2 separate regions of the Homo sapiens genome follow, and region 1 is linked to region 2. Evidence: fine-mapped expression QTL. A gene starts in region 2. The other region holds a variant in brackets. All regions are shown on one strand. Distances are from middle to middle.

Region 1 (5,366 bases), 26 kb after region 2:
GTGCTGCGATTACAGGCGTGAGCCACCGCGCCCGGCCCCCCGTTTTTTTTTTTTTTTGAGACAGTTTCACTCTCGTTGTCCAGGCCGGAGTGTGGTGGCGCAATATCAGCTCACTGCAACCTCTACCTCCCATGTTCAAGTGATTCTCCTGCCTCAGCCTCCCGAGTAGCTGGGATTACAGGCACCCACCACCATGCCCAACTAATTTTTTTTTTTGTATTTTTAGTAGAGATGGGGTTTCACCATGTTGGCCAGGCTGGTCTCAAACTCCTGACCTCAGGTTATCCACCCACCTCGGCCTCCCAAAGCGCTGGGATGACAGGGTTGAGCCACCGTGCCCAGGCGACTTTGTTTTCAACAGTCATCAACGTGCTGGTGGTCTGGGGAGTGGACGTGGCACCTGTGCCCCTGCCCATGGAGGCCAATCTGCCCAGGGACTGTCAGCAGAGTTGCTGTAAGGCAGCCGAGGGAGGCTGGCTGCTGAGCCTGCGTAGCACCCTCGGCTCGGAAGTGGGACCCTCGGCCACCTGAGTGGAGGTTCCTTGGCTCAGGTGGTAGTCTGTCTGTCTGGGCCGGCCTGCCACCAGCAGCCATGTTCCTGCAGGGCACAGTGCAGGGGCTGTTTGCTGCTGAGTTGCTAGCATGGGACTCTGCAGACAGGATTAAGGTGCACGGATCTCGAGGTGGGAGATTATCCGGGATTATCTGGGTGGGGCCAATTAACTACATAAGTCCTTAACCGCCTTTCCTGGCTGAGCTACAGATGAGACAGAAGGAGAGTCAAAGCATGAGAGGGACTTCACCCGCCAGTGCTGGCTCTGCAGATGGGCAAGGGCCCTCCGTGAACAACGCAGGCGGCCTGGAGAAGCCGGGAAAGGCTCGGCTTGCACCCAGCAAGGTGCTACTGCCAGTCCTACCACCAGCAAGAACGGAATTCTGCCAACCTCCCAACGAGCAAGAGAACATCTTCCTGTAGGGCCTGCAAAAAGCAAAGCCCTGGCCAACACCTTGACTTCAGCCCAGGGAAACCCACACTGGACTGAGGACCGAGAGGACTGTGTGTCAGCCAACACCTTGACTTCAGCTCAGGGAAACCCACACTGGACTGAGGACCGAGAGGACTGCGTGTCAGCCAACACCTTGACTTCAGCCCAGGGAAACCCACACTGGACTGAGGACCGAGAGGACTGCGTGTCAGCCAACACCTTGACTTCAGCCCAGGGAAACCCACACTGGACTGAGGACCGAGAGGACTGTGTGTCAGCCAACACCTTGACTTCAGCCCAGGGAAACCCACACTGGACTGAGGACCGAGAGGACTGTGTGTCAGCCAACACCTTGACTTCAGCCCAGGGAAACCCACACTGGACTGAGGACCGAGAGGACTGTGTGTCAGCCAACACCTTGACTTCAGCCCAGGGAAACCCACACTGGACTGAGGACCGAGAGGACTATGTGTCAGCAATAACAGAAAAGGAGTAGAAAGGCCATCTATTGCGGCCCTGTATTTATTATAAATAAACTGAATCCAAACTAAAAATCCACCCACTGGGGAATGGTTACTGACAGAATAGAAATGTTCTATGGCTATTACAAAGAAACAAGCTTGCAGCCATCAGCATGGCTAAAAGGAAGGCAGGACTTAGAACAAACAGGACTCTCCCTCTCTCCTGTGGGACAGAAACTGTGTGACTGCTTTGGAGAACGGGTTGGCAGCATCTACACAGGCCCTACAGCCCAGCTTCCACTCCTCAGTACGTCCCAACAGCAATGGGCACCTGTGTTGACCAAACGCGTCTGAGACTCCTCACAGGAGCCCTGTGAGAGTCACCCAACATGGAAACCATCCCAAAGCCCATCTGGAGTGGAGCCAATGCACTGCAGCCTTGACACACGGGAGACCACTCGGCGCGGGGAAGGAGGGAGCAACTGCACTCAACCACGTGGCCGAAGCTCACCCAGAAGACATGGAAAGAAGGCAGCCGGACACAGGAGAGTTTGCCCTGTGTGGCTCCATTGACGTGAAAACTAGACAAGGCAGATGAGTCCACAGTGACATGCCAGGCCGGGGGCAGAGTGTGAGAGGCCTGCAGAGGGCGAGGCTGCGAGGGCTGATGCTTTCTCAGGC[C/T]GGCATGCCTGTCCGCACTCACTGTATTGCAGACTTTAAAGGGGTTTTTTTGTACACAAATTACACCTCAATAAAGCTGATTAATTAAAAGACGGAAAGCTGACAACATCAAATGTTGGCAAAGATGTGGAGCACCTGGAACTCTCATGCATTGCTGATGGGACTATGAAACAATGGGGCTGCTTGAGCAAACAGTTTTCTCTTTTGAGATCAGGTCTCACTGTGCTGCTCAGGCTGGAGTGCAGCGGAACAATCACGGCTCGCTGCAGCCTCCAACTCCAGGGCTCACACGATCCTCCTGCCTCAGCCTCCTGAGTAGCTAAGACTATTACAAGTGTGCGTCACCACACCAGGCTAATTTATTTATTTTTTTGAGACAAAGTCTCACTCTGTCGCCCAGGCTGGAGTGCAGTGGCATGATCTCAGCTCACTCCAACCTCCGCCTCCCGGGTTCAAGTGATTGTCCTGCCTCAGCCTCCCAAGTAACTGGGACCACAAGCACCACCACCACACCAGGCTAACTTTGTATTTTTAGTAGAGATACGGTTTCACCATGTTGGCCAGGCTGGTCTCAAACTCCTGACCTCAAGTGATCTGCCTGCCTCGGCCTCCCAAAGTGCTGAGACTACAGGCATGAGCCACCACACCCAGCCCCAGGCTAATTTTTCAATATGTTTATAGCAACGAGTTCTCACTATGTTGCCCAGGCTGGGCAAGCTTATAAATTAAAACGTACACTCATATATGACAGCAATTCCACTCTTAGATCTACCTAAGGGAACAGAAACACCTTCAGAAAGACTCACATATATTCTAGAGAAACACCTTCAGAAGGACTCACGTGTATTCTAGAGAAACACCTTCAGAAAGACTCACATATATTCTAGAGAAACACCTTCAGAAAGACTCACGTGTATTCTAGAGAAACACCCTCAGAAGGACTCACGTGTATTCTAGAGAAACACCTTCAGAAGGACTCACATATATTCTAGAGAAACACCTTCAGAAGGACTCGTGTATTCTAGAGAAACACCTTCAGAAGGATTCACGTGTATTCTAGAGAAACACCTTCAGAAGGCCTCGTGCGTATTTGTGTTATAGTTTAGTGCTAGTGCCACTGAACTGTATCCCTACATATGGCTAAAATGACGTGTTTTCTGTATTTTACAAGAAAAATAATTAAAAAAAAAAATTTAAAAGAACTAGCTCTGAGCCGGGTGTGGTGGTACATGCCTGTAGTCCCAGCTGCTAGGGAGCTGCTAGGTGGGAGGATCAGTTGAGCCCAAGAGGTAGAGGCTGCAGTGAGCTGAGATCATACCACTGCACTCCAGCTGGGGCAACAGAACGAGAGTCTCAAAAAAAAAAAAAAGAAAAAGAAAAAAGAAGAACTCGTTCACATCAGCATTATTCGTAATACCCCAAACCAGGAAATAACCCAAATGTGCATCAACAAGGTAAATGCATAAACAAACTGGGGTATATTTGTGCAAAGGAATACCACTTGGGAACAAAAAAAGAAGAATCTACTATTGTACATCATGAATAAGTTTCAAAACTGCTGAGCAAAAGAAACCAGGGTCTGCTTCGTATCCATGATGTCTGGAACAGGAAAAAGCAGCCCATGTGATGGAAGCCGACTGCTGGGGGCTGGGGGCTGACTCGGCAGGGCCTGAGGGGCTTTCTGGGAGGAGAGTGGATGTGCTCCTGATTTGGATGAGGGTACTGGCTGCATAGGTACATATATGTGCCAAAACTCATAGAACTGTACATGCAAAGAGGGTACATTTATTAAATAGACATCATCTCTCAATAAAATTGATTTAAAAAAATTAAACCCACAGGGCATTGATCTGCTTTGAATTTGGAGGTCTAAGGATTAGGGGACCGGATTACCCTACAAGACAGCCTGAACACATATCAGAGCCAGATGTGAAGGCACTGCCTGTCCCTGAAGACCTGGGGCTCTAAGTCATTCACGTGCGGGGCCGGCGCTCCGCATTCAATCTTCCGGCATACCACTCCCCTCGGATGTCTTCTGAGACAAGGACAGCCCACGTCCACCAACCCCACTGCAGGCAAACCGGCGCCTGCCTGATGGAGGACAGTAAAGGAAGGAAAAGTTATCTAACAAATTTCAAATGTGTCTGTGTACACCAGCATGCCAAATGTCAGAAGAAATTCTAGGGCAGTTTGTGGACTGGTTTCCTGCGAAGCTAGAGCTTTTACTTAACGCCTTAAAACCCACAACAAGCCAAAAGGGCTCTCGTGTCTACAAAGAGCAGGCACACTTGGCACAGAACACCTGGCTAAACACAGAACATTAAGAAAACAAAAAACACAGGTCTGGCCCCAGCTACTCAGGAGGCTGAGGCAGGAGGATTGCTTCAGCGCCACGGTTCAAGACCAGCCTGGGCAACACAGTGAGACCCTATCTCTTAAAATTCTCCTCTCCCATCTTTTAAGGAGCAGATCCCATAGCTCTCAGATTACTTTCAATGATTACAAATCCAGCTTAGTGTGGCTTAAACCCCAATCTCATGTCCACTTTAAGACTCATTTCTGGCTGTGCTTGGTGGCTAACACCTGTCATCTCGACACTTTGGGAGGCCAAGGTGAGAGAATCACTTGAGCCCAGGAGTTCAAGACCACTAGCCTAGGCAACATGGCAAGACCTCAATTCTACAAAAAATAATTTATTGGCCAGGCACAGTGGCTCACGCCTGTAATCCCAGCACTTTGGGAGGCCGAGGTGGGTGGATCACTTGAGGTCAGGAACTCGAGACCAGCCTGGCCGACATGGTGAAACCTCATCTCTACTAAAAAAATACCAAAAAACTAGCCGGGCGTGGTGGCAGGTGCCTGTAATCCCAGCTACTCGGGGGGCTGAGGCAAGAGGCTTGAACCCAGGAGGCAGACGTTGCAGTGAGCCAAGATCGTGCCATCACACTCCAGCCTGGTGGACAAGAGCAAGACTTTGTCTCAAAAATAAAAAAATAATTTATTAAAAAATTAGCCAGGTGTTGTGGTGCATGCCTATGGTCTTAGCTACTTGAGAGGCTGAGGCGGGAGGATCACTAGAACCCTGGAATTTGAGGCTGCAGTGAACTATGATCACTGCACTCCAGCCTGGAAGAGTGAAACTGTCTCTCTAATAAAAAAAAACAAAACCAAAAAAAAAAAAACAGAGATGACCACTGCTAATGTTGTCATATATTTCATTCCACAATTATTTTACATA
Region 2 (5,322 bases):
CCGCCGTCATGTTGGGGCAGGGGCAGGCCCAGTCCATGCCACTCAGCGTCACCTCCAGGTACTTGGTGCCCAAGAACTTGAGGCCCATCTTGTCATCCTTGAGCACGTCCTCGAGCGCCACGCGGGCGATGCCGCCGGCGGCCTCGGGCTCCTCCAGCACCTCCGTGAGCCGCCCCACGATGGCGAAGTCGCTGCGGCACAGGCTCAGCGCCAGCTTGCTCCGGAGGCGGCAGGCGCGGCAGGGCGGTGTGCGCGGCACGGGGCAGGCATCCTCGCAGCTCTCGCGGCTGTGGAAGTTGTTGCCGTTGCCCTCGCAGCCACCGTACACGAAGGGATGGCACTGCTGCAGCAGCGGGCTGTAGGCCCAGCGCGGCTCCCAGCCCCGGCAGGGGCCCTGCACGGCAGGCAGCACGCAGGCGTCGCCGGGGCCGCGGGCACAGGCCTGCTGGCATGCCTCGTAGGTCTCAAAGCCGCGGGCCGCCCCATCACAGCCACGGGCCGGGAAGGTCATGCAGCCGCCCCGCTGCGGGTCGTAGTGCCAGAGGACAAGGTGTGGGGAAGTGGGGCCCGTGCAGGCCTGCACATCCGGCAGGCACTCGGCCGGGGCTGGGATGCTGGGGGCTGCGTCCCTGGCCGGCTCTCGCTGGACCACAGAGAGTGGGAAGTCAGCCCGCAGCAGCCCAGCAGCGTTGCGCGCGGTGCAGGTGTACAGGCCGGCGTCTTCGGGCCGCGCGTTGTAGAGCACCAGCTGCCCGATGCTGGTGACCACCACGTTGCCATACATCTGATCAGGGCGCATGATCAGGTTCTCTCGCTGGTGACTCTGCTTCTCCCAGGTCACAGCAGGCGGCGGGCGGCCGCTGACGTCGCAGTGGAGGCTGGCCGTACCCCCAACCTGCACCGCCTGTGGGGAGGGGCTGCTGTACAGGGCAGGAGGCACGGGCGCGGCCCCAGGTGTGGGGCGGGCAGTGGTCTCCGGCGGCCCCGGGCTGCTGGGCGGCCAGCTGAGCACGTGCTTGCAGGGCACGATGTGGAGGTGCAGGCCCCGCAGGCAGGCCTCGGCGTCCATATAGCAGCGGTTGTAGTAGGTGAGGCCGTCCGAGGCGCAGGTGAAGCTGGGCTCCTTCTCACAGCGGTCGCGGCAGCGGCACACGGGCTGCCCGTCCCAGATGTCGCAGTCCGAGCCCTGCTGTGGGCACACAAAGCCCTCGCAGGAGGCCGCTGTCGTCGGCGCAGCTGGGCTGCCGGGGAAGCGTGCTGCCACGCAGCTGTGCAGTCCACACACGTTGATGCAGCACTTCTCAGCAGCCGCACAGTCCTGGGGATGGGGGACACTTAGGTGGGAGCCCCAATGCCCCCCGCCCCGGGGCTCTGGCCTGGCCCCTGCAAGGGGAGGCCCAGGTGGGGTAGCAGGGAGCCCCCCGCTCTGTGGCTGCCTCCCCGGGGACTCAGTGTCCTTTCCATCCTGTGTGAGGAGCCACCTCGCCAGAGGTGCCACCTGGCTTACCTTCCAGAATCCTCACACCCACAAGCAAGTTCCGTTATTCTTTACGTTGTACAGACGAGGAAACTGAGGCCCAAGGAGGGCGTACAGTGCTCAGGACCACCCAGCAGGTGGTGCGGGCCAGGACAAAGGCTGGACATCGGCTGCAGCACCCCCACCACCATCTGCACTGGTCCCGGATGGAAGGAGGGTGGGAGGACAGGGAGGACAGTGGATGGAAGGAGAGGGTGGGAGGAGAGGATGGAAGGAGAGGGTGGGAGGAGAGGATGGAAGGAGAGGCAGTGACGGGGTGGGAGAAGAGGATGGAAGAAGTGGATGGGAGGAGTGGATGGGAGGAGTGGATGGGAGGAGAGGGTGGGAGGAGAGGCAGTGAAGGGGTGGGAGAAGTGGATGGGAGGAGAGGATGGAAGGAGAGGCAATGACGGGGTGAGAGAAGAGGATGGAAAAAGTGGATGGGAGGAGTGGATAGGAGAGGATGGAAGGAGAGGCAGTGATGGGGTGGGAGAAGAGGATGGAAGAAGTGGATGGGAGGAGTGGATAGGAGAGGATGGAAGGAGAGGCAGTGACGGGGTGGGAGAAGAGGATGGAAGAAGTGGATGGGAGGAGTGGATGGGAGGAGAGGGTGGGAGGAGAGGATGGAAGGAGAGGCAGTGAAGGGGTGGGAGAAGTGGATGGGAGGAGAGGGTGGGAGGAGAGGGTGGGAGGAGAGGCAGTGACGGGGTGGGGGTGGTCGCCGAGGATGATGGTGCCCCAGGGTGGAGGCACATGGGGAGCATGAAAGCTGGAGTGGGGAGGGCTCTTATTCTTAAGACAAATGAGGGCAACGATGGGGGTGTCTCTGGGCCCCTTAAGGGGCCCAGACCCAGACCCCCCAGAAGTCTGGGGAGCCCAGGCAGAAGGTGGCACCTCCAGCAGGGTCTTGCCCAGGCTGGCTGCTCTGAGCCCCAGGACCCCGGCCCGACCACACTCACCTGGTCCCTGCTACACTCGCGCTCACAGGTGCTCTGGGCGTCCACCCACAGGTTGGGGCTGAGCTGGTTGGGGCACACGCCCGGGTGGCTCCCCAGCCCTGGCAGCAAGCCAGCCCCCGAGGTCAGCCGGAGGAGGAGCAGGAGCGGCAGGAGTGGACGTAGGGCGGGCATGAGGGCCGCCGAGCCAGGGGGCCGGGGGGTGTGGCCACCAGCCCCTCCTCGGGCTCCACAGAGCCCAGCTTCCTGCAGGCATCCACCCTCCGGGCCTGTGGTCGGTGCCCCCACCAGGACCCCGGGGCTCCCTTTTGCCCCTGAGGCTGAAGCCTGCAGCAGATGCTTGTCCTGACACCCCTGCTGGGTGGGTAACGGGGTCTCCAAGTTCTCAGAGGCCGTCTGTGTGACGCTGGTTCCTCTCCAGCTTCAGCCTGGCCCCTCTGTCTGAACCGTGCGGGGGCTCCCAGGCCCTGGTCAGCACAGGGCAGAGGGGAGGAGGTTGGGGAGGGGCCAGAGGCCCATGAGCACAGAGCCACTGGCCATGAGGGTCACCGGGGCGGGGAAGGGCTGGCTCTGGCTGGAGAGGGGGAGGGGAGGGGACCCTGTAACCTGAACCCCTTCGTCCACCCCTGGGCTGAGATCAATCTCCTTGACGACCCTCAGTAGGGTGGGGGCAGGGCCAGCAGATCCCAGCTTTTGTCCCTGGCGCCCTCTGGACCCCAGGCTCCTATGCCATGGGGGTGGCAGGCACGGGCCCTCCCCGCAGAGCGTGGCTGACCACAGCCTGGGTCCCCCGGGCCAGGTCCAGGCTGGCAACGGTCACGTGCGGCCGAGGGCTTCACTCCGCTCCGAGGTTCCTTCCCCCCTCCATGGCTGTTTCAGGGGCACAGGGGTCTGCAGGACGCCCAGCACAGCCCGGCCTCCTCTGCTCTGCTGCCCCTGTTGGAGTGGGGCCCAACCCGGCAGGACTGCATTCCCAGAGACCCCATCCCTGAAACCAGGCAGCGGGCTTGGGGCTCAGGCCTGTCCCCAAGGCGGGGCAGGTGCAGCAGGAAGAGGCCTGTGGCCACCACAAGCATAAGAACAGCCCGAAACGCTGATGCCGGAGCCTCGGCCCACGCACCGTGTAGCCCTGGACGTGGCTCCGCGTGGGATGGCACCGCCCGAGGGAAGGCCAAGTGCAAGGGCGTCTGCAGCTGAAAAGAGCAAGTGTCCCAGGGCACCAGAGCCTTGCCCTGCCCCAGCCCCCCGTCGGCGGGGCACACATCCCCAGGCTGGCTCCTCTTCGTTGGGGAGGGCAGGGGGCTGGCCTGCCTGGTGCAGCAGGACAAAAGGCTGCCTGGAATCTACCCTTCCAAACCCTCTGTGGCTCCAGATGTCTGGGGCCTCAGGGAGTGGTTCTCTTGAGACCGGATGGGAGTGTCCCCCTGACCCTGTGTCTGACCTCTGACCCAGGAGGCAGGGTAACAGGAGCCTGGTCTGGTCAGAATGAGACCCGGAGACGGCTCCAGGCGCCAGTCCCTGCTCTACAAGGAGACTGGGGGTGGGCCCTGATAGCGTGGGGGTGGGGGTAGCTAGGCCAGACCCAGCAGCAGGCGGCTGGGCTGGAGCTGCCAGGGAGGGGCTTAAGGCCCGGACATGCCCACGAAACAGCACAGGGAGGCACCTGAGCCAGAGGCTGTGGTCTGGTCCCTGTACCAACTGGAGTGCCCCGTTCCAGCTCAGCTGTGACCTCCGGGGCGTCCACACCCCCCTGGGCCGGGCATAGCAGACACCAGATTGGCCAGCGTGCAGGCGGCTCTGCTGAGCGGGCCGACTGACTGGAGGACCTGGCCCTCTGGAGTCCTGCTGCTGTTGGGGACAGTCCGCCCCAGGCCATCTGCTGCCGGGGACTGTGAGCGAGGGCTCAGCACAGCCCAGCTGGGATTCCATCCACCGGGAAGAGGAGAATGGCCGTGACCAGGCCCAGCTGCTCCAGCCCAGCTCCAGCCCTCACTTTGAGGCGAACCCAGCCAACCGCGGCAGGTCAGCCCGGTCAGCGCAGGGAACAGCAGGCAAAACAAAGGCCAGAGGTCAGTTTGCCGGGTATGAAGCAGCACTGGCCCCTGGCACGGGGCACCGCCACTGCCAGACCCACCCCACCAGACACAGCAAAACGTGGGGACCACAGCTGAATTACATTTACTGTACAAAGAACGGTTCGGAGAGAACCAGGAATGGCGGAGTGTCTAACAGCAGCGCGGGTAGTGTTGATGCCGTGAATGCAGGACCATCCAGGTCCTCAAAGTCTGTGAGGTTTGTTCATAATCCCAAACAAGGGCCCTGCTGGCAGCAACAGGACAGGTGGGGCCAGGACAGGGAAGCTGGAGCAGGAGGCCAGTGTCTTTGGGGGCTGTGGCAGGGCCGCCTGCCTGGGGTTCCCTTACTCATCTGGTAGTTCATGCAGGCCACGGCCCTCATCTCCCAGGAACGGGCCATGGGGCGAGTCCACTGGTGCCCAGTAACACCCTCCGTGGGACCACCTTGGGAAGCATGTGCCGCGGAGTCCACCACGGGGGGTCCTGGGTCCCGGGAGGGCTCCTTCTGCGTGCTGGCCATGTCGTGCCGCACGGCCTGAGGACAGGAGGTAGAGGTGAGCACCAGTGCTGTGGGCAGGCCCAGGCGATGGTGACCGTGCAGAGGGGCTGCTGGGGCAGGCATGGGCAGAAGCACTGGGTGGAGGAGCGGCCAATGGCTTCAGGAGAGAGGTGGCCGGCCCTGCGTGCCTGGGGCTCAGCATGAGCGCCGGGCTGGTGGGCCTTTGAGGAGGGGCCTAGCCTCCCGAGGCCCCCAGGTGGACGTGGACGTGGACGA

What was found. PIP is the estimated chance that this variant, and not a neighbour inherited with it, causes the effect. A credible set is the group of variants that fine-mapping cannot tell apart.
Region 1: its variant is the best candidate, but not a certain one, in a credible set for the expression of WFIKKN1 in thyroid (GTEx, PIP 0.66).

What each region holds. Positions count from the first base shown.
Region 1 is chr16:602,193-607,558 of GRCh38, reverse strand. The region is part of intron 1 of RAB40C (RAB40C, member RAS oncogene family); the gene reads right to left. It overlaps LOC124903618 (a long non-coding RNA gene), which reads left to right. Exons shown (of 2, transcript XR_007064934.1): 2 at 1-2,226. Among named protein-coding and RNA genes, the nearest start is that of RAB40C, 15 kb to the right of the region's middle. The variant C/T (reference allele first, on the strand shown) is at 2,129.
Region 2 is chr16:628,578-633,899 of GRCh38, reverse strand. It overlaps WFIKKN1 (WAP, follistatin/kazal, immunoglobulin, kunitz and netrin domain containing 1), which reads right to left and starts at 2,915. Exons shown (of 2, transcript NM_053284.3): 1 at 2,476-2,915; 2 at 1-1,318. The coding sequence starts at 2,646. It overlaps RAB40C (RAB40C, member RAS oncogene family), which reads right to left. Exons shown (of 6, transcript NM_021168.5): 6 at 4,632-5,322. RefSeq lists enhancers at 2,822-3,556, 3,737-4,031, 3,557-4,290.